Homo sapiens: one gene and its partners. The protein of the gene in region 4 purifies or fractionates together with the protein of the main gene of each other region. This does not show direct contact. Each region holds a gene or a part of one and is shown on either strand. Other genes may lie near its edges. The genes, in order: AGRN, LAMA4, ATRN, MANEA, MAN2B1 and GDPD5.

The links.
Region 1: the proteins of MANEA (region 4) and AGRN purify together in Homo sapiens (affinity purification with mass spectrometry; one large-scale study listed by BioGRID and IntAct). This does not show direct contact.
Region 2: the proteins of MANEA (region 4) and LAMA4 purify together in Homo sapiens (affinity purification with mass spectrometry; one large-scale study listed by BioGRID and IntAct). This does not show direct contact.
Region 3: the proteins of MANEA (region 4) and ATRN purify together in Homo sapiens (affinity purification with mass spectrometry; one large-scale study listed by BioGRID and IntAct). This does not show direct contact.
Region 5: the proteins of MANEA (region 4) and MAN2B1 purify together in Homo sapiens (affinity purification with mass spectrometry; one large-scale study listed by BioGRID and IntAct). This does not show direct contact.
Region 6: the proteins of MANEA (region 4) and GDPD5 purify together in Homo sapiens (co-immunoprecipitation; one large-scale study listed by IntAct). This does not show direct contact.

What each region holds. Positions count from the first base shown.
Region 1 is NC_000001.11:1,026,620-1,030,119, reverse strand, and holds part of AGRN (agrin isoform 2 precursor), read right to left. Parts: intron 1-3,500. UniProt on the Homo sapiens protein: Isoform 1, isoform 4 and isoform 5: neuron-specific (z+) isoforms that contain C-terminal insertions of 8-19 AA are potent activators of AChR clustering.
Region 2 is NC_000006.12:112,143,068-112,146,567, forward strand, and holds part of LAMA4 (laminin subunit alpha-4 isoform 1 precursor), read right to left. Parts: intron 1,867-3,500; coding exon 1,727-1,866; intron 1-1,726. UniProt on the Homo sapiens protein: Binding to cells via a high affinity receptor, laminin is thought to mediate the attachment, migration and organization of cells into tissues during embryonic development by interacting with other extracellular matrix components.
Region 3 is NC_000020.11:3,561,518-3,565,017, reverse strand, and holds part of ATRN (attractin isoform 1 preproprotein), read right to left. Parts: intron 2,743-3,500; coding exon 2,559-2,742; intron 1,810-2,558; coding exon 1,655-1,809; intron 1-1,654. UniProt on the Homo sapiens protein: Involved in the initial immune cell clustering during inflammatory response and may regulate chemotactic activity of chemokines. May play a role in melanocortin signaling pathways that regulate energy homeostasis and hair color.
Region 4 is NC_000006.12:95,601,535-95,605,034, reverse strand, and holds part of MANEA (glycoprotein endo-alpha-1,2-mannosidase), read right to left. Parts: intron 209-3,500; coding exon 132-208; intron 1-131.
Region 5 is NC_000019.10:12,649,743-12,653,242, forward strand, and holds part of MAN2B1 (lysosomal alpha-mannosidase isoform 1 precursor), read right to left. Parts: intron 2,719-3,500; coding exon 2,621-2,718; intron 2,529-2,620; coding exon 2,411-2,528; intron 481-2,410; coding exon 362-480; intron 273-361; coding exon 171-272; intron 1-170. UniProt on the Homo sapiens protein: Necessary for the catabolism of N-linked carbohydrates released during glycoprotein turnover. Cleaves all known types of alpha-mannosidic linkages.
Region 6 is NC_000011.10:75,442,442-75,445,941, forward strand, and holds part of GDPD5 (glycerophosphodiester phosphodiesterase domain-containing protein 5), read right to left. Parts: intron 2,055-3,500; coding exon 1,972-2,054; intron 846-1,971; coding exon 695-845; intron 141-694; coding exon 1-140. UniProt on the Homo sapiens protein: Glycerophosphodiester phosphodiesterase that promotes neurite formation and drives spinal motor neuron differentiation.

The DNA of each region.
Region 1 (3,500 bases), on a different chromosome or scaffold from region 4:
TGCACACACACACACACATGCTGATCTCACAGCACCAGGCACTGCACACACACACACATGCTGATCTCACACAGCACCATGCACTGCACACACACATGCTGATCTCACAGCACCATGCACTGCACACACACACACACATGCTGATCTCACACAGCACCATGCGCTGCACACACACACACATGCTGATCTCACACAGCACCATGCACTGCACACACACACACACTGATCTCACAGCACCATGCACTGCACACACACATGCTGATCTCACAGCACCATGCACTGCACACACACACACGCTGATCTCACACAGCACCATGCACTGCATACACACACACGATCTCACACTCACAGCACCATGCACTGCACACACACACGCTGATCTCACAGCACCATGCACTGCACACACACATGATCTCACAGCACCATGCACTGCACACACACACACACATGCTGATCTCACAGCACCATGCACTGCACACACACACACACATGCTGATCTCACAGCACCATGCACTGCACACACACACACGGCCACACAATGGGTATTCCTGGCCTGCCCAGCACCACCCCTGCTCCTTGACCCCCACTCTGCCCCATTCAGCCCCACTGCTGACCCCAGCCCCAGCCTCAATTCTCTCCCTCCACCTGCCCTCATAGACACGGGATGTCCCCCTCCCCCTACCTGCCTGCATAGACACTGATGTCCCCCCCACCTGCCTGCATAGACACTGATCCCCCCACCTGCCTGCATAGATATTGGGCATCCCCCATATCTTTGTGCAACATTAATTTTGTCCCTCAACCCCCACCCATACACTGGGAAGGCACGTTCTCCTCACCTCCCACCCATATGTTCCCGTGTGGACACAGGCACACTCTGGTTGGGCACCCGCAGGTACTTATCCTGCCCTCAGAAGGTGGGGGTTGGGGCCTGGAGTGGGTGGAGCACTGGGGCTCTCTGGCAATTGGCAGGCCCCAGAGGGGCTGGGGCTCGGTTCCTTCGGAAAGGGTGGCGTGGCTGTGGGCGCCCTTGGCCCACGAGGGGCTGGGGCTCGGTTCCTTGGGAGAGGGTGGCGTGGGTGTGGGCGCCCTTGGCCCACGAGGGGCTGGGGCTCGGTTCCTTGGGAGAGGGTGGCGTGGCTGTGGGCGCCCTTGGCCCACGAGGGGCTGGGGCTCGGTTCCTTCGGAAAGGGTGGCGTGGGTGTGGGCGCCCTTGGCCCACGAGGGGCTGGGGCTCGGTTCCTTCGGAAAGGGTGGCGTGGCTGTGGGCGCCCTTGGCCCACGAGGGGCTGGGGCTCGGTTCCTTCGGAAAGGGTGGCGTGGGTGTGGGCGCCCTTGGCCCACGAGGGGCTGGGGCTCGGTTCCTTCGGAGAGGGTGGCGTGGGTGTGGGCGCCCTTGGCCCACGAGGGGCTGGGGCTCGGTTCCTTGGGAGAGGGTGGCGTGGCTGTGGGCGCCCTTGGCCCACGAGGGGCTGGGGCTCGGTTCCTTGGGAGAGGGTGGCGTGGCTGTGGGCGCCCTTGGCCCACGAGGGGCTGGGGCTCGGTTCCTTCGGAAAGGGTGGCGTGGCTGTGGGTGCCCTTGGCCCATGAGGGGCTGGGGCTCGGTTCCTTCGGAAAGGGTGGCGTGGGTGTGGGCGCCCTTGGCCCATGCACCGCACACAGGCTCGAATGCAGACGCTGACTTCCGGTCCACCCAAACGCTCGGTGCCCCCAACCCCAACCAAGGAAAACAGCTGGCGTGGAGTGGTCAGTGCCCACAGGTGCCGCCAGCCAGGTGCAGGGCGGGGGGGGGGGGGGGGCGTTTCCCCACGGGAGAGAGAACGGCCAGCAGGGGAGACGGCAGCTCCGAGGCAGGAATCAGCTTGCTCCCAGCTGTGGGGTCACGGCAGCTGACGACTGCGCCCCAGCCCTCTCTTCCGCCCCGTGTCCACAGCCTCTTTCTCCCACGGTTCTCTGCACGGGCTTTCACCCCTCAATGCACAGCTCCTTCCCGGCTTCCCTGGGAAGCCCCGTGGAGGTGCCAACCGTGAGTGTGTGAATGGGGAAGGCACTGATGATGAAATCAGTGAAGGTCATGGTGAGCCCTGCTCACACCCCAGCCTCCCCTGGGGAGAGAAGGGGGCACAGCCCCTCCCCACCAGCTGCTGTGGGCCGGGGCGGCCGTGGGCCGGTGTTTGTGCTTGTGCTTCTCCAGCGGGGGGTGCGTGGGAGCCTCCCACCTGCGGACACGCAGGGGCTTGCTTCTCCTAGGGCCCAGTGTGAGGGTGGCCAAGGTGGCTGCCAAACGGCGGGGCAGGGAGGCTCAGGCCAGCGACAGACCCCCGCTCCCACCCTGACCAGGCCTGGTCTGACTCCCAGACTGCCCTGCTGCCCCCAGACAGAGTCCCATCTGGGCAGGGGTGGGCATCTGTGTCAGTCTCGAGGTCCCGCAGGCATGTGAGGGACTGTGACCCAGGACCCTCTCCTGTCCTCACTGCCGCCCCAAGGGACCCAGCATGCCTTCATCTCAAACCTTCAGAAACCACACTGGTCATCTCAGAGGCAGCACCTGCAGAAGGTCCTGGGCCCTTTGCCAGACACGGGGCAGCGTGCTGGACGCAGTGAGCAGGGGGCAGGAGAGTGGACAACCAACAGCAAGCTGAGGCGAGACACGTGCACGAGGACAGAGGAAGAGCCCAGCTCCGAGGCCCCCTGGACAGGCCAGGGTCACCCACCACCAGCCTCACACCTGCAGCACCAGCCCGGGCTGAACCCAGGGACATAGGGTGGTAAGAACCATGGCCCACTAGTGGAGGCTCCAGGCAGAATTCTGAAGTGCACAGGCTGGTACATCTGAGGCTGCAGGCACGTGCACACACATGCGTGTACACACACACACAAACACATGCACACACGCAGGCCACACAGCTGGAAACAGCCGGCTGCCTGTAGGACACAGCACGCCCCTTCTCCCACGCCTCTGCTCCGTGGGGGGACTGCAGGAGGAGGGGGCTGGGAGGGGCCGTCTCCCTTTCCCAGGTCCTGCTGTGAGCTGCCCCTGGCAGGGGGCCTTCCTCAGAGGAAGTTCCCAGGATCTGTGCTGGGGGGAGAGGCCCCTTCGGGGGGGCTTCCCTCAGTGCTGCAGGCTCCGCTAGAGACCTGCCTCATTCCCTAGATCCCAGCCACAATCTTGCCACAGCCTGAGGGGCGCACAGGACTGCTCTGAGCCCCAGTGCAGCTCCCAGCAGCTCACCCAGCAGGCAGGAGGTGCAGGGGTACAGAGCCTCCTCCTCCAGCGGGCGACTGTCCATGGGGTGATATCTCAGCCCTGCACTTCCTTTTTCTCATCTCTGAGGGGCAGGCACCTCCTGGGACCCCGGGGTTCCATCCTGAGGTGGGCAGGCCACCACGGTGTTTCCGTCTGCAGCCCCAGCCCCGCTGGGCTTCGGGGGCCCTGGGGAGCCCAGTCCAAGTGGGGAGGGGGTGCCAGAACCAGGACTGCAGGGAGGGGGTCCGTTCCT
Region 2 (3,500 bases), about 17 Mb from region 4:
GCTGGTCTGATTCAGGGATAATTTTTAGAGTATTTACAAGTGTATGGATTGTGTATACTTATGTCATTTATCTGAATCTTTCCAAATGATTAGGCATCTTTATATTAATTTATTAATATTGATTTGGCTAATGTGGGTGGTCAGTGAGCTCAAGGCTCTATTTCCAAATGACTGGAGTGCAGCTGTCCTATGTTATCAGTTGAGTAAAAACTAATACTTTTTTTTTTTTTTTTTTTTGAGACACAGTCTCACTGTCACCCAGGCCGGAGTGCAGTAGCACAATGTCAGCTCACTGCAACCTCCATCTCCCAGGTTCAAACAATGCTCGTGCCTCAGCCTCCTGAGTAACTGGGACTACAGGTGTGCGCCACCACGCCCAGCCAATTTTTGTATTTTGGTAGAGACAGGGTTTTGCCATGTTGGCCAGGCTGGTCTCAAACTCCTGGACTCAAGGGATCTGCCCACCTTGGCCTCCCAAAGTGCTGAGATTACAGGCATGAGCCACCGCACCCGGCCAAGACCAATACATCTTAATAAACAAGCAGTGTGGGGGATTAAAGTCTTACATTAATAAGTGAGAGTCTGAGAATAGTGCATGTCTGCATGAAAAGCATCCCACTTGGGGGCACTGAGTGAGCTCCCAACTCCCAAAGGTGGGGCTAAGTCTGTCTTTAGCAAATGGTCTTAGGTGATTAAGGTCCCAAAGTCATACTCTTTATAGAAATAATATTACAAGAAAGCACTCATAAAAACCTAGCTTTTAGAATGCCATTTCTTGATGTACCTTTAGATAAACCTTTTTTGAAAATGTTCACTGGGGCATCTAAATAAGGTAATTTGTCACAAGGGACCATTTATCATCATTTAAAAGTCAGGTCTATTTACCAAGAATAATCTTCTACATTACGAAATAGTTGATTTCTAACTCTTCTTTCTGTCAGTAATTAGGACCAGTAGTCTGCTCAGGCCGATTCTTAACTGAGAAAATAAAACCATATACTTTGGTCATAAAAAGTGAGTCTGGTCTATGAATCAATTAAAAAAATTCAAGAGGTCCAAGAACAAGCTCCACTTTGCCACATTGAAAAGTAATTGCTATGTCAGGAGATGTTCCTACAAATGCCAGCCCTAGTTATCTTCTGCTAAGTTGCTTCTATATGTGTCCCAAAACACATATAGTGTGTTTGTTGAGTTTATTCCTCTTAGCCAGTATGTGATTCCTCAGTTAACCCTGCGGGTGGTCAGTAAAAGCTTCTGCATAATTTGTGTTGTACCAGATAATTTCTTGAAGGGGTAGGACAGATGGGATAGATTATTCCATTATGGTAATTGCACTAAAGCAGCTGTTAAAATAACATAAAATATAAGAACGAATTGAGGCTTTTATTGAGGCTTTACTTCTTTTGCTATATTAGCTTTATTGACTAGTTTAACTCTGTGGTTTTTAAACCTGGCTACACATTAGAATAACCTGGGAGCTTTAAAGAACATACAGGTACTGAGCCCTTTCTCTACAGAGTCTGATCTATTGCTTTCAGGTTGGGACCAGGAATTGGTTTCGTTTTCAGTGTTCCTCACGTGTTTCTAATTAGCAAATGGGGCTGAGAACTACTGAGTTGGAGAATACAGCAGAAAGGTCCAGGCTCTGGAAGCTGCCCAAGCAGTTGGAGCTCAGCTTCGTGTTATTATTACCGCTGACTGACTGATGAGTCTTTTCATCAGTTACCTTGCTGGCAACACTTCTGGTCTGAGCAATGAGCTCTCGGATCCTCTGGATGCTGGCAGAAACGTTGCTTGCAGGTCGCTTCTGCTCAACCGTACGAAGCTGATCCAGGAGCTGAGGGACAACCTCGGTCAGATTTCTTACTGCAGTTAATAAAAATTAATCATTTAAGAAAATAACTCAATATTATATTTCAAGAATCAGATGTAGACAATAAACATGGATTACATATGGTAGAACTAAGAGAAATGATTTTTAATCCTGCAAAATTAATAGTAAAACCTGTAAGGTACACAGATGTGCTTTGATCAGGGAATAGGTTGAGGCAGACATCTGGGCCAGACGGACTCAGCTAGTTTAGGGCACAGGTGCATACTCCATTTGTTATATAACCTGTTTGTGTAAGCTCATACTTGGCTCACAGCCACTATTGTTTGAAAATGTATAACTGCCCTGCCGATGCCATGCACAGGATGCGTGCTCTTGCGCCCAGAGAAAGAGAGAATGCCAAGGCCGCCTGTCTTGCAGACGGACAGAGGGAGAGCCAGGGCTCAACATGGCTCAGGCGTGCTGGTGCCCAAAGAGAGAGTAACGCTACTGACCCCTGTAGGGGAGAGCCAGTTGCCTTGAAGGTAGGCATGGGGGAGCCAGGAACTGGCTTGTACCTGGAAAGAGAGAAAGTTAAGCTGCTAACCCTGAAGGCAAGAGCAAGCCGACTGCTCAGCTGTGTGTGGGAGCAGCCAGAGCAAGCAGCCGAGACAGAGCAGGCAGTGTGAGAGAGCTTCTGATGAGAGAGCTGCTGAACAGAACTATATTTCACCTGTCTACATCCCTCAAGTGTTCTTTCAGCCACCCACCCACTCCACTCAGACCTCAGTATGGGCTCGAACCTGACCCCGAGCATGACATTTGGCATAGTCGTGGACCTAACAAAGCCCAAAGCACAGTTTGTTTCTATTTTTGTGACATTTATAGTACTTACTGATCTAAAAATTGTATCTAGAGCAGGCTTTTTCTAAAGGGCAGGGACCACGGTATATATACAAATGTTCCTTTAACCATATAGCACAGGTTCTGCTTGCATTTCTAATATAACTGATATAACAGGTCAAGAGGAATACTGGGAAAAAAGGTAGGAAGATTGTTTTCCACCTTTTTTCCTTTTCTATGTTTTCTTCCTCTTCTATGTTTTCTAAACATAGAAAAGAGCGCAAGTCAGATGGGCTTGATGGCTCACACCTGTAATCCCAGAACTTTGGGAGGCCAAGGCTGGTGGATCACCTGAGGTCAGGAGGTTGAGACCAGCCTGGCCAACATGGCAAAACCCCATCTCTACTAAAAATGCAAAAATTATCCAGGTATGGTGGTGCACGCCTGTAATCCCAGCTACTCGGGAGGCTGAGGCGGGAGAATCGCTTGAACCCGAGAGGCAGAGGTTGCAATGGGCCAAGATCGCACCACTGCACTCCAGCCGGGGCGACAGAGCGAGACTATGTCTCAAAAAAAAAAAAGCACCAGTCATAAGAATACAGCTTGATGAGAGAAACTCAAAACAAAGAGAATGGCATAAATTTTTCCAGAGTTTCATTGACTGAACAGTGGTTCTTAAAGTGTGGTTCCCAGACAAGCAGCAGCAGCATCACCAGGAACTTGTCAGAAATGCAAGTTCTTGGCCCTGTCCCGAGCCCACTGAATCAGCAGTTCCTGGAGTGGGATCCAGCAGTCTGTTTAACAAGGCCTCCAGGTGATTCTAATGCACACTAGTATTTGAGAACCA
Region 3 (3,500 bases), on a different chromosome or scaffold from region 4:
TCTCAGCTCACTGCAAGCTCCTCCTCCCAGGTTCACGCCATTCTCCTGCCTCATCCTCCCAAGTAGCTGGGCCTATAGGCGCCTGCCACCATGCCTGGCTAATTTTTTTTATTTTTAGTAGAGATGGGGTTTCACCGTGTTAGCCAGGATAGTCTCAATCTCCTGACCTCGTGATCTGCCCACCTGGGCCTCCCAAAGTGCTGGGATTACAGGCATGAACCACCACGCCCAGCCAAGAATGTTTTTTAAAGCAAGCAAATTTTACATTCTACAAAGCTTATGTCAGCAAAACATGGGTTTCATAATTATTTTCCACTCTTTTCTATATTGATTTGCTCAAATTTAGTAGCTAAAATGGAAAAATAAAGGTGGAAAATGAAATTTCAAGAAATTTAAATGTCACCTAATTTTTACAAAGTCCTTTCCTAGATCCCATAGATTGATTAATTTTCCCTTGTTGTGACCCATACTAGCAACTTCTCTTCTGGATCTAATACCAACTGGTGCTGCTATACCATGCCAACCTCACACTCAGTGTCTCACTCTTTGAGCCCTTAAATATGTGCCGGTCTTTTCCACCTCTGTGTCTCTGCAAACTGGGTTTCCTCTGCCTGGAGAGTGCTGCCTAACTTCACCTACCTGACACCTAGTGTCCCCAAGGACCCAGAGAGGATGGCCCCTCCTTAAGAAAGTGTTCCCTGTTTATCACTCTACCCTCCATGACTTAAAGGGTACTCAGAGGTGCTCTCATACATTCTTTTCAGCCAGAAACACCCTGAAGTGCAATTCTATTGTCTGCTCATTTCTCTACCTCTTCTACTTTGAGGCTAAGGGCTTTAAGTTATTCATCTGATCTCCTCAATGTACAAACTGAGTGGCTGGCACACAAATGTCTGTTAAAAACGAATGTCTGACTTGGAATAGTCAAAATCACAGAGACAGACTGTAGAATAGTGGTTGCCAGGCATTGTGGGGAGGAAGAAATGGGACATTATTGTTTAATGGGTATACAGCTTCAGTCTTACAAGATGAAGACAGTTCTGAAGATGGATGGCGGTGATGGATTTATAACATTATGAATGTGTTTAGTATCACTAAACTAGACATTTAAATATAGTTAGGATGGTAAATTTTATGTGTATTTTACCACAATCAAAAAAATAATAATTTGTTTAAAATGAACATCTGACAATTTTTATGAAAGAGATCATCCGGTATGCATTTGCTTTGCATGAACAAATACTGCCCTCTTCTGGTCTGGTATATTGCCACACCAAGACCATGTGAGAAACCAGTTTTCTAGGGAATGAGATAAAGCTAATACGTGAACCAATTTTAACACAATGCTGGTGGTTGCAACTATGTAACACTACCAGGTAGGCATAACATGACAAAGGAGAGACTAGACACCTCAACTCAGCCTTAAAAATTAGCATTCAAGCAATTAACAGGAGTGATTTCAAAAAGAATTTAATGTAGAAATAATTTTTACCAGATGTGTAACATTAGTCAAATGAATATAAAAAATACCATTTGGACCTCTTTCAAATGGCCTGATCATTTTGAACTGGCAATATTTTCAGTCTCCTTTTAAATGCTGCTTATAGTATAGGCAAAAAGATGCCTGAAGAGAAAATGGTTTTGGGAAACTTACCAATGTCATAGGCCATGAAATCTGAAGAGAAGCATTTGGCGCCATGGCTCATAGATGTGTCATTGTGTGTGTTTCCTCCAAACACCAGCATGGTTCCACTCACTATCACAGCTGTGTGCAAGTAACGGAAAAATCGGCTGTCCTTAAGAATGGTCCTTTTGAGTTTATTTAGAAATAATAAATACAAGGTTAGTTTTTAAAGAATATTTATGTATCTGCTAATGCAAGCACAACCACTTTATTAACCTCAGACCCAAATGTACAAATCCTTCCAGAGTTTTCCCTACATAAAAGTAAGTTTTTCAACAATAAATACAGATAATTTTAAAGACCTGTAAGAGTTTTGGCAAAATATATTAAGAACCTTAAACTCTTCATACCCCGTAGCTATATAATTCCAGTTTCTGGGCAGAAATCATGTGAAATATTGACAGAAGCTTAATGCATAATGGTTTCTTAATGACATAAAAACTAGAAAGAAACCAAAACTTTCACCTGCATAGTCTCAGCATACCCACAAAATGGAGTATTGCACAGCTACTAAAAATGATTATTTTTATGACAGAATATAAAACAGTACCCATAGCAAGGTATCAAACATGTGAGGAAAAAGAGGAGAAACCATCGCTTTATAATTACATTATTTCGTAACTCAAATTTGCTTTACATTTGTTAAAAAACTCTAAGTATTTTCTAACCAACCTGCTACAGAATTACAGAATAACGTAACAAAATAAATACTAGCTACTTTATTACCCTCTGTTTATTTCCCAATTTCTCTATATATAATGCCGAACAGAATTATCTGCCAGGCATGAAAACAAAAAGATAGCACAATATTTTCTCCACAATTGCCTCTACAGAATTTACACCTTAAAGTGAAAGCTCAAGAAAAAGTACCCACCACATCTGGGTATCCACATCATATCGGTAGAGATCATCTGCAAGCCGGTACTTATTGGCACTGAAAGCCTTGTAGCCACCATGAACGTATAGGGCCCTGGTCCTATGGTCGTAAACACTGCTATGGCCGTAACCCCCTTGCACAAGGGCACCCTGGGTGTGTAATATACTCCATGTGTTCTTATCTGGAAAGGAAAGACAGTTAAAGGCAAGCATGGCAGGCTCCTCCTCTCTACTACTGAAAATGTCCAAAGAGCTTAGGGCATGAGAATGGATTTCAGGAGACCTGATACATATACTTTTTTATCTTTATATTTTAAAGAAAGCCACCTAAAACTTATAACAAAGCCATGTGGCCCAATTCCAGTCTGTTCTATGTTCTGATGTTCTAATATGCCATGTAGGAAAAGAATTAACTAAATTTAAAACACTCAGGGCCAGGCGAAGTGGCTTACATGTGTAATCCCAGCACTTTGGGAGGCTAAGGTGGGAGGATCACTTGAGGCCTGCTATGTTGGCCAGCCTGGGCAACATAGCAAGATCCCATCTCTACTAAAATTAAAAAATTAGCCAGGAGTGGTGGCACGCACCTGTAGTCCCAGCTACTAGGGAGGCTAAGGTGGGAGGATCACTTGAGGACAGGGCATCAAGGCTGCAGTGAGCTATGATTGTGCCACTGCACTCCAGCCTGTGTGAGAGAACAAGAGCCTGTCTCAATAAATAAAATGTTCACTCAAATGAACATTTAATTCCCTACAACCTTTGGTGACCAATATACAGATATATTTTATAGGCCTACTTTCACAAAATGTTAATTATACCTGGTATTCCTACTGCACAACAACAGATACAATGAAATTTAACCAAGGGAAATATTTCATATTAAGGGTAAATCATACTCCACTAAACCAATCTCTAAAGGGCTGGGCAAATATTTTTTTTC
Region 4 (3,500 bases):
CAATTTAATTTTATTAAAAATGGAATAATCATAAATCATTCAAATCTCAAATATAATTTAATGTACTATTCTTAAAACAATAATTATCACTGGATAATATAACAATATTTATAAATATTGAAGAAACTCACTTGTCTATAATATACTTGACATTTTTGTACATGTTTTGATCATCTCGATTGCTATATGGTTCTATGTGAAAAGTAACCTAAAACAAACAATAAAATCAGTTAGGGGATAAATTATCTATAATGTAAAATTAGAAGTATACTTAATATATTTAATAAAGTAACTGATTTAATCACCTTAATTAAAGATGAATATTTATTGAACACAGAAACTACCAGAGAATTTTTACCAATAAAATTTACTGCTAAATAACATGCTAAACATTTTATATTATTATCTTGGTTAATCTTCACAACTCCCTAAGGTATTTCTGTTTTCTTAGTGAGGTAATCAAAGATAGACAGAACCTTAAGAAAGGTTCAGTAAGTTGTTCCAGGTCACCCAGTTTGTTGGAGGTAATATTGATGATCTGAATTCCGAGTTCAAATGCTTAACTGCTGTGCAATGCTTCTTTTTATGTTTACTCCTTATAAAAATGTTTCTTACATATTTGTATCCCATATAATATATATAGGAAATACTCTATATTCAGATATATGTTTCTTTTAGGAAAAAGACCAAAAAAATATGGTCCAGAAAAATCTGGATTTTTTTCAGGCATGTGACCATTAAGCTTAAATTTAAATAGAAGTCATTAGCAAATTTATTTACATATAAATTCTTCCATATCATTAAAACAGCATTTTACAAAATAATATACATTAACTTCTATTAAAGAATTTATAATGAAATCGCTTAAAAATAATATCCACTAGTGTTATAAAGGACATTTTTCATGATGCCTAGGTATTTATGGTTTGGATATCCCATACACACACACACACACACACACACACACACACACCTACATACATATATACGCACACATACATACATTATATATATATATGTAAACATAGAGAGCAGTAATTACAAATATTTTTAAAATACTGTGCACAGACTAAAATTTTTTAACTTAAGGTTGGCTATACATAAATCAAGACAAACTAATTATGGCTAGTAAAACCATTCTGTATGCTACTTCTAACTAGTAAGGTAAAAAATACAGAAGATACTTCTCTTAGATGACAATCTATTTCAGATTCATAAAACAAAGAATGAGGATTTTCACTTTTATTCCTAGTTTTACTGACTTACCAACATCAACTAAAAATCTTTATGGCAGTCTAATAAATGTATTGATACTGTTTTAATTTTAGGTTTCAGGCTCTATGATGTATTTATGGAACTAGAGACTTCTATTGCAATATGAAACTCCTCTGTTTTCAATTACCCAATTAAAGCAAAATGTATTTTACATTAATCAGTGCTACTTGTTTTCACATAATTAATTTTAAAGTTAAATAATATTTAAAAAAAATATAATTTTCTACTTTAAATGAGATTACAGTAATATTATAAAAGTAAGTTTCTGTCATAAAAAACTAAGGTCAAATTAATTTTTGCAGCATATTGTTAGTATTGCCAGGGTAGTAACTGCTAGGGCAGCTAGATTTCTCAATAACTTTGGTATTTGCTTTTTAAATTCAGTTGAAAGCAAATTGCCTAGTGTATAGGTATTTTCATACTATTACATAATGTTTCCTTGGGTAATTCTTCCTTCAGTTACATCACTGTGTTTTCTAAATTTCCATTTTATACATAAAGGACACCATATTTAAGCAATATCCAACTTGAAATATCCTATATCAAAATGAATTTGCTTTTACAGCTGCAAACAACAAATAGCATGCTATTTTTGTAAAGCGCAGATCAATATATTTAAAGTAAATATAGTATTGATAAGTATAAAATATTTAAAATTTTCCCTCATGTATTTCTAATTTCTTAATTATAATAAAATTACTTTGCAATTTTTTTTTTTTTTTTTTTTTTTTTTGAGACGGAGTCTCGCTCTGTCGCCCAGGCCGGACTGCGGACTGCAGTGGCGCAATCTCGGCTCACTGCAAGCTCCGCTTCCCGGGTTCACGCCATTCTCCTGCCTCAGCCTCCCGAGTAGCTGGGACTACAGGCGCCCGCCACCGCGCCCGGCTAATTTTTTGTATTTTTAGTAGAGACGGGGTTTCACCTTGTTAGCCAGGATGGTCTCGATCTCCTGACCTCATGATCCACCCGCCTCGGCCTCCCAAAGTGCTGGGATTACAGGCGTGAGCCACCGCGCCCGGCCATTACTTTGCAATTTTAATTAATGATGTGATCTAGTCTCCATCTCTCTATTCCATTTGGAAAAATCAATTAGATCAATGTTAAAATAAATTTTAAAATAACAGAATTCTATACATAAAATGAAATGTCTTTCTTATCTTTAAAGAATAAGAATATAAACATTCCCTCATTTCATGTTTTTAATTTTGACCTTTCCTGTCTCTTCCCTACCCTGCATTTTAATAACTTTAATAAATAAATTTTAATAAAATGAACTTTTTTGAATGAAAATCTGATAACTTTCTCCTTCTCCAACTCTATTCTCTACCTTCACCCCTGCACACTCCCCTATCCCCTGCCACAACAAAATTGAGGTAGGTCTTCCTACTCCTATGTGGTGCCATAATACCTCATACTTTTCTCTTCCTGAAATTTACTTGTCTTTGTGTCTGACCTCCAGTAGATTACAAGGCATTTTAGGGAAAGAGATAATACTTCATCCTTCTTCTTAATATTGTCAGCATCTGGGACTGTATCTGACACGTAGCAGGTGCTAAATGAATGAATGCATGCATAAATAAATGGACTAATGATTTGCATGCAAAAACAAACAACAGTTAAACTCTTAAGTCTGTCACTTATACTGGATTTAGGTAAGATTCCCAAAGTTTCTGCCATGAATTCACAATATTCATTTAACAAGGAAAAAGAAAAAGGAGAGGCCATGACTAATATAACATGTTTCAAATGTAGGTGAAAATCATTTAAAAAAGAATCACGGACATACTTATATTCATGTTTCACATGGTTGAAATCTGCATAAGCCTGAAAAGCAGATAAAATGACTCTAGAGCCATATGCAAAGAAATAATGGATGTTGATAAACCTAGTATAAGAAATGTGATTTCTGCATAAAGTAGAAAGAAAATATGCTACTTTAAAATAACATACTAAATTTATTAAAATGAAAGAAGATCACCAGGGCTGAGTTGGTTCTTTCCCCTATAATCCTAAGCAAAAAAAAAAAAAAAAAAAAAAAAAAAATCACTGAATCTGCCTAATTTTCTTTTACTTAGATGAATGATTTAATTCAGTCAAGTTTTGATTAGATAATGCCATGTAACAACCCCACAATCTCAGTGGCTCTAAAAGACAAACATTTGCTTTTCGAACATAAAATCTATGAACTGGCTTATGATGGTTCTGCTCCAGGCTGGTTCAAATCA
Region 5 (3,500 bases), on a different chromosome or scaffold from region 4:
AAGTGCTGGGATTACAGGCGTGAGCCACTGCACCCTGCCTGGCTCCCCCGCCCTTCACTCTCCCTTCGTCCTCTGTCTCCCACACTCATGTAATCAGCAAATTTCCCTCACCACCCCTGGGCCCCAACACACCACAGACCACCCCCTCAGTGCTCTCAGTCACCCCCCACCTCCTCTCCAGGATCTCCCGGCCATTGCTGTCTGTGTAGAAGCGTCCCTTTGTCTCCAGCGGTGTGTCAAAACGGCTGATGACCTCCTTCCCCCAGGTGTCGCTGTACCCAATGGGATGGCAAGGTTGTGAGCCTTGGATAAACCCCTCTGCCCTTGCTTCCACACCCCTCTCCCAGCCTGTGCCACTCACCCCACAGGTATCGGCCCCACCGACCACTCTAGCTCCAGGTGCCGCTGTCCTGGGTACAGGCGAACCACCTGGGAACACCAAGCTGAGAAGTTCTGGTGCACCTCCTGCACCAAGGGTGTCTGCGGGCACACGGGTGAGGTGGATGTCAGTCTGTACCTGAGCAGAGGTGAGTCCTACAAATGTCCCCCAACCCTGGCCATAAACCCCATTAAGGCCTACATCAAGGTCAACCTTCAGTCACCGCCACATAATTCTTTTTTTTTTTTTTTTTTTGAGACGGAGTCTCGCTCTTTTGCCCAGGCGGGAGTGCAGTGGCGCGATCTCGGCTCACTGCAAGCTCCGCCTCCCGGGTTCACACCATTCTCCTGCCTCAGCCTCCCGAGTAGCTGGGACTACAGGCACCCGCCACCACACCCGGCTAATTTTTTGTATTTTTAGTAGAGATGGGGTTTCACCGTGTTAGCAAGGATGGTCTCGATCTCCTGACCTCGTGATCAGCCCGCCTCGGCCTCCCAAAGTGCTGGGATTACAGGCGTGAGCCACCGCGCCTGGCCCACATAATTCTTTTTTCTTTTTTTTTTTTTGAGACAGAGTTTTGCTCTTGTTGCCCAGGATGGAGTGCAGTGGCACAATCTTGCCTCACTGCAACCTCCGCCTCCTGGGTTCAAGCAATTCTCCTGCCTCAGCCTCCCGAGTAGAGGGATTGCAGGTACCTGCCACCACCCCTGGCTAATTTTTGTATTTTTAGTAGAGACGGGGTTTCTATCCATGTTGGCCAGACTTGTCTTGAACTCCTGACCTCAGATGATCTGCCTGCCTCTGCCTCGCAAAGTGCTGGGATTACAGGCGTGAGCCACTGCACCCGGCCTCTTTTTTTTTTTTTTTTTTTGAGACAGGGCATCACTATGTAGGCACCTAATCAGCAAATGCTCCCACCTGGTCTTGAACTCCTATGCTCAGCGATCCTCCTGCTTCAGTCTCCCAAAGTGCTGTGATTACAGGCATGAGCCACTGCATCTGGCTTACCACATCACTCTTGAGCGTGGCATAAACGCCTCCTGTTCACCATTGCCCCATAGAATAGGATTCTAGCTTGGCACATGGCTACCTGGGATAAAGACTATATTGTCCAGTCTTCCCTGAGGCTATCAGTAGCTGAGTGACCAGTTTGCCCCATAGAAAGTGATCCAAGTGGTGTCAACAATGTTCCTTGCCCCTGTCCCTCTGCTACTGACTCAAACACAAATGTGGCGGCTGGAGCTTCAGCAGCTATCTTGGACCATGAGGTGGAAACTGAATATTGGGGAAGGCAGAGCAACAAGATAGAAGAGGAGGTCCTGGGTGATTATGGAACCACCCCACTTTCTCTGGACTAACAGCCAGACTTTTTGTTAGAAGAAAATAATCTTCTATCTTATTCTAGTCACAGTTAATTTGGGTAACTCTGTTAGAACAGGCAAAACTATATACAGATATGCAGACATTCATCTCAAAGGGACTCACATGAAACGCGAGGCTCTTGAATGTGGACAAATGTGAGTTTTGTCATCTATGAAAGTCAAACATCAATGAGAGGCCCTGGGAAACCACTGTTCCTAGCCAGATGCACCCATAGGCATTCACCCTGAGACTCACCCAAACCCAATCAATCCAAGGGTGGACTCTCAAATATTCACTCCAGATAGAAGCTCCTCTTACTACAGACTTTGGTGAATTCTTCAAGCAGTGATATTTGGCTCTCCTGATTCATGGGCCAAGTGGGAATGCCCCACCCCCAATTTCCAAAACTAAGTATGTAAACGTCCACAGCAGATGTGAATGGCTTTGTATGATGTGTCCTATGGGGAGACTCTCATACGACCAGCTATGAATATCAATTCTATGGAAGGACCCTCAAATATTTCCCCCGCTGATCTGTGGGTCTTAGCCCACTGATCTGAAGGAAAAGTAAATCCTCCCCTACCCTCACTCTACACATGGCCCACCACCCTCTTGGGCTCCATAACTTCCCCATTCCCAACTGCCCACTCATCATTCCTAGTCCCTGACCTTCACCAGGTGGATCTGAGCCCAGCGGCTCACAGGCAGCGGTTTCTGTTGGTTGGGTCTGAAGATGTAGGCACCTGAGGCCTGGTCACTTTCGTTGTCACCTATACTGGCGTTGTACCTGGAGTTGGGGCAGGTGAGAGTCAGGTAAGGGGCCCTAGCTCCATGCCGAGCACCACCACCCCACCCTCAGGCCTGGTGATCTTCCCTTACCAGAAGAAGGTCTGGCGAACAGGCAGCAGGAGTTGCTGATTCATGTTCATAATCTCCATCAACAGCCCTGTGTCAGGATCAAACGTTGCCCGGATGTGCTGGGCAGAAAAGGGTCCACAGATGGGTTTGTGTGTGTATGTGTGTGTGTTTTCTTTTTTTAATTTTTCTTTTTTCTTTTTTTTTTTTTGAGACTGAGTCTCACTCTGTAGCCCAGGCTAGAGTACAGTGGTGCAATCTTGGCTCACTGCACCCCCCACCTCCCGGGTTCAAGTGATTCTCGTGCCTCAGCTATCCAAGTAGCTGGGATTACAGGTGCCCACCACCCCGCCTGGCTAATTTTCATATTTTTAGTAGAGACAGGGTTTCACCATGTTGGCCAGGCTGGTCTCAAACCCCTGAACTCAAGTGATCTGCTCACCTTGGCCTCCCAAAGTACTAGGATTACAGACATAAGCCACTGTGCCCAGCCGGATTTTTATTTTTTTTTTTTGAGACAGAAACTTGCTGTGTCGCCCAGGCTGGAGTGCAGGGGCGCAATCTCTGCTCACTACAGCCTCTGCCCCTGGGTTCCAGCAATTCTCCTGCCTCAGCCTCCTGGGTAGCTGGGATTACAGGCACATGCCACCATGCCTGGCTAATTTTTGTATTTTTAGTAGAGACGGGGTTTCGCCATGTTGGTCAGGCTGGTCTCCAACTCCTGACCTCAGGTAATCCACCCGCCTTGGCCTCCCAAAGGGCTGGGATTACAGGCGTGAGCCACTGCACCTGGCCTGGGTTTTTTGTTTTTTTTTTTTTTTTGAGACTGAGTCTCGCTCTATCGCCCAGGCTGGAGTGCAGAAAGTGGCGTGATCTTGGCTCACTGCAACCTCCGCCTCCCGGG
Region 6 (3,500 bases), on a different chromosome or scaffold from region 4:
GGCGGGTCACGCAGGTTGAGCAGCAGTGTGGCATTGCCCTTGGCCAGCTCCAGGAGCTCTGCCAGGCTGCAGATGGACTGGTTCTGGGCCTCTCTGTGGTCGGAGGGTGACAGGGAGCTGGCTGTCCAGAAGGGGTCAGTCTGGCAGGGACAGGGACACACACATGGCTGCATCATCAGCCCTTTGGGGGCCCCCACATACCCTTCTGGCAACCAAGCGTGGAGACCCCTGGGCTGCCAGAGTCTGCTGGGGTCAGGCAGATTGATGGCTGTGGCCATGTGGAGGCTGTAGGAGGCCCCAGCCCTAACCTTTCTACCCCACACCCTGCTTACCAAGAGGACGGAGGACGGCTTGCTTGGAATCGCTCCCAGACCCACAGCATTTCTCCTTCTAGAGCATTTCAGATCAGAGAGCCAACCCCTCTCTAGAGTTTTACAGAGTTAAGAATTCTATTCACTGCTCTCATCCCTGTCAACCTTTTCTAGTGAGGGAAATGGACCCAGAACAAGCAGTGACAACCATGAGTCTGGCAGCAGTGGCAGGAGCCTAGGAGGCCACTAAGCAGCTTGGGTGGAGGTCGCGAAAGCTCTGAGAGTGGGGGTCTCGAAGCTGATGGCCACCCTTGCACCTCTCACTCCTTGCAGTCCCTGCTGGTGTTTTCCATGCCTAAGATTGGGATCAGGTGCAGCCAGACCTTCAGGAACCACTGGCCAGCGTTGAGTCTCTGCAGGGTGGTCCAGTTAAGCATGGAGGCAGGCCTGCGGGCCAGCTCCGGGAACTCCTCCTCCACGTTGGTGGTGCGCCGCAGGGTGGTGTCATGCATGAGGAAGGGCACGCCGTCCAGGCTGCAGGGAGGGTGGGGCCACCGAGTCAGTGACCCCCCAGATCCTTTACCTGCCCACCAATGATCGTCACCCCACACAGTCCTCCCCACCCAGCACAGGATCCCGGCTGGCTCTGCCCCTCTCTGGGCCTCAGTCTCCCCATCTGCACAGGGAAGACAGTGGGCTGGTGGGTGACCCTGAAGGTCCAATGCCTTCTGGCTCTCTGTGAGGGTCAGATGGGGGTGGGGACTGCCAAGGAGGGAGGGCTGGGAAAAATCTGGACCTACTCTCTTAGCAACCTTGGAAGGTAGGTGCTGCCTCATTTGACAATGGAGAAACTGAGGCTGAGAGAGGGAAGTATCTAGCTCAAGGTCCACAGCCTGTAAGTGGTGGAACCCAGTTTGGAACCAAATCCCTGTGATGCTATGATGAGAACAGTGCAAATGTAGACCTCTTTGGCAAATTCCACCCAACCCCAATCCTTGTCTACTCTACCAGGGTTGCAAATAGCTCATATGGTGCCTTAGTGTGAAACAGTAAAAGGTACCTGTGCCCTCTGTTCCTCAAGGCATTTTACCACCATCTGCTAGAAAGTTGTGATAAACACACAATTCTATGTCTATACTGGGAACAATGTCCTCATTTATGTGATGCCCTTGTTCAGTATGCAACCTGTACAACTATATATGACAGTTCTGCCCTTCTTCCCTTCTCAGATAACCTCTGTTATGAGATTAGTATGGATTCTTCCTGCCATTTATACTAATATCTACTTATATATGTACATGGAGAAAGTGTATATGTCACTTTTTTGTGGTATTTTAAAACGTAACTGGAGTCACAGTGAATGTATCACTCTGCAACTTGCTTTATTTCCCTCATGAGAGTGTTGTAGCTCTATCATCTATTTTTCCCTTCAAGTGGCTCTGTGGCAGTGCTCCTGCTTGCACCAAGAGCATTTGTTCTTTCCTCTATTTTACATCCTGGAGTCTGCAGGAACAGGGTGCCTGCCCTGCTGTGGATAATCTAAGTCTTCCTCCTCCCATCTCAGAGGCTCTGAGACCAGAGGTTCCCCCAGCAGAGACCCAGGTGGATGCCGAAGCGTGTGGGAGGGGTAGAGGAACTATCTCCCCTCCGCTACACCTACCTGATGGTAATGTCAGCCTGGAGCCCGTACAGCTTCTGCTCGAGGGCCTTCCGGAAGGACATGAGCGTGTGCTCTGGAGCCAGCTGGGGAAGAAGGGGTGGTGAAGGGAGAGCCAAGATTCAGCTGATGTACCCTCCCCAGCCAATGGAAAGTCTTTCATGTTGGGAGGCTGGGCTAGGCCTGGTTCTAATTCTGGCCCCTCCACAGAGTAGCTGTGTGACCCTGGGCACCCACTCAGCTTCTCTGAAGTTCAGCTTCCTCATCTATTAAATCATGCCTACCTCATTGGTTTTACTGGGGGCGGGGGAGGCAGGGCTGGTTAGTGTTGATGCATATAAATGCCTGACATGTAGCTAGCACTTGACACATGGTAGCTATGGTCACTATGTTATCATTGCTCTATCCCAGGCACTGAGCTAGACACTGGGGCTGGAGGGCTTTTTTACAGTCCTCTGTGGCTCTCTGGCAGTCTTGGGCTGGGGCTGAATGTGAAATTCAGGTTATACCCTTGGTTATACCAAGGGTTATACCCTGAGACAAGTCCAGGGGGGAGACCTGGAAGAGAGGGTAGATGGGATGGTAGAGTTTCAGTGCGGGACCAGTTTCCTCATCTATATAAACATGACAGCATTATTTCCCTCCCTGGACTGTTACGTGAATTAAAAGCCTCTAGCACACTGCTTGATATACACAGTAAGTGCTTAATAAATAGCAACTGTTTTCCCCTTACATGATCCTGGTTCTAGCATTTTTTTAAGAGACAAGGTCTTGCTGTCACCCAGGCTGTAGTGCAGTGACACAATCACAGCTCACAACAGCCTCAAACTCCTGGGCTCAAGCAATCTTCCCGCTTCAACTTCCCAAATAGCTGGGACTACAGGTGCATGCCACCACACCCAGCTCTGGTTCTAGCCTTGACTCTGCCATTAACTATTGTCCTGACTTTGGGTATATTTCTCTGTGGGTCTCAGTTTCCCCATGTGCCCCTTAGAGATGTGTACTCATGAGGGTCTTTATGCTTAGGACAGTTGGGATTCAAGCCTCCCTAGTTGGGTCTCATCTGAGGACTGTCATACCCGTTGCTGCCACTGGGGGTCAGCACCAAACCAAGGATTGGGCGAAGACCAGGTCCATGAGGGATGGTCGGAGGGAAGGAGGGAGGGAGGACACCCCCGATCCCCCTGCCCTGCTCTGTCAGTGAAGAGGTGAGGTGGGAAGGATTCCCATGGCTGATCTCATTCATTCCCACTGAAGACAATCCTGTTCCCACCTTCTCTCCCTCTGGCCACGATGTTCCCCAGCCACTCCCCTCTTTTGTGACACAGCCTAGCACTGGGGAGCCAGGGAGTGGTGAGGGCTTTGGAACGGACTAAAAAGGTGCAATTTCACTTCCCAGACACAGAGCTGGGGCCTCAGTTTCTTTAGCTGTAAAATGGGCTAACATTATCAACCTCACAGGTGAGATAACAAAAGTCACAGACCCTAGCCCAGGACCTGGCACACAGCAGGGTCTCAGTAATGAGTTTCTT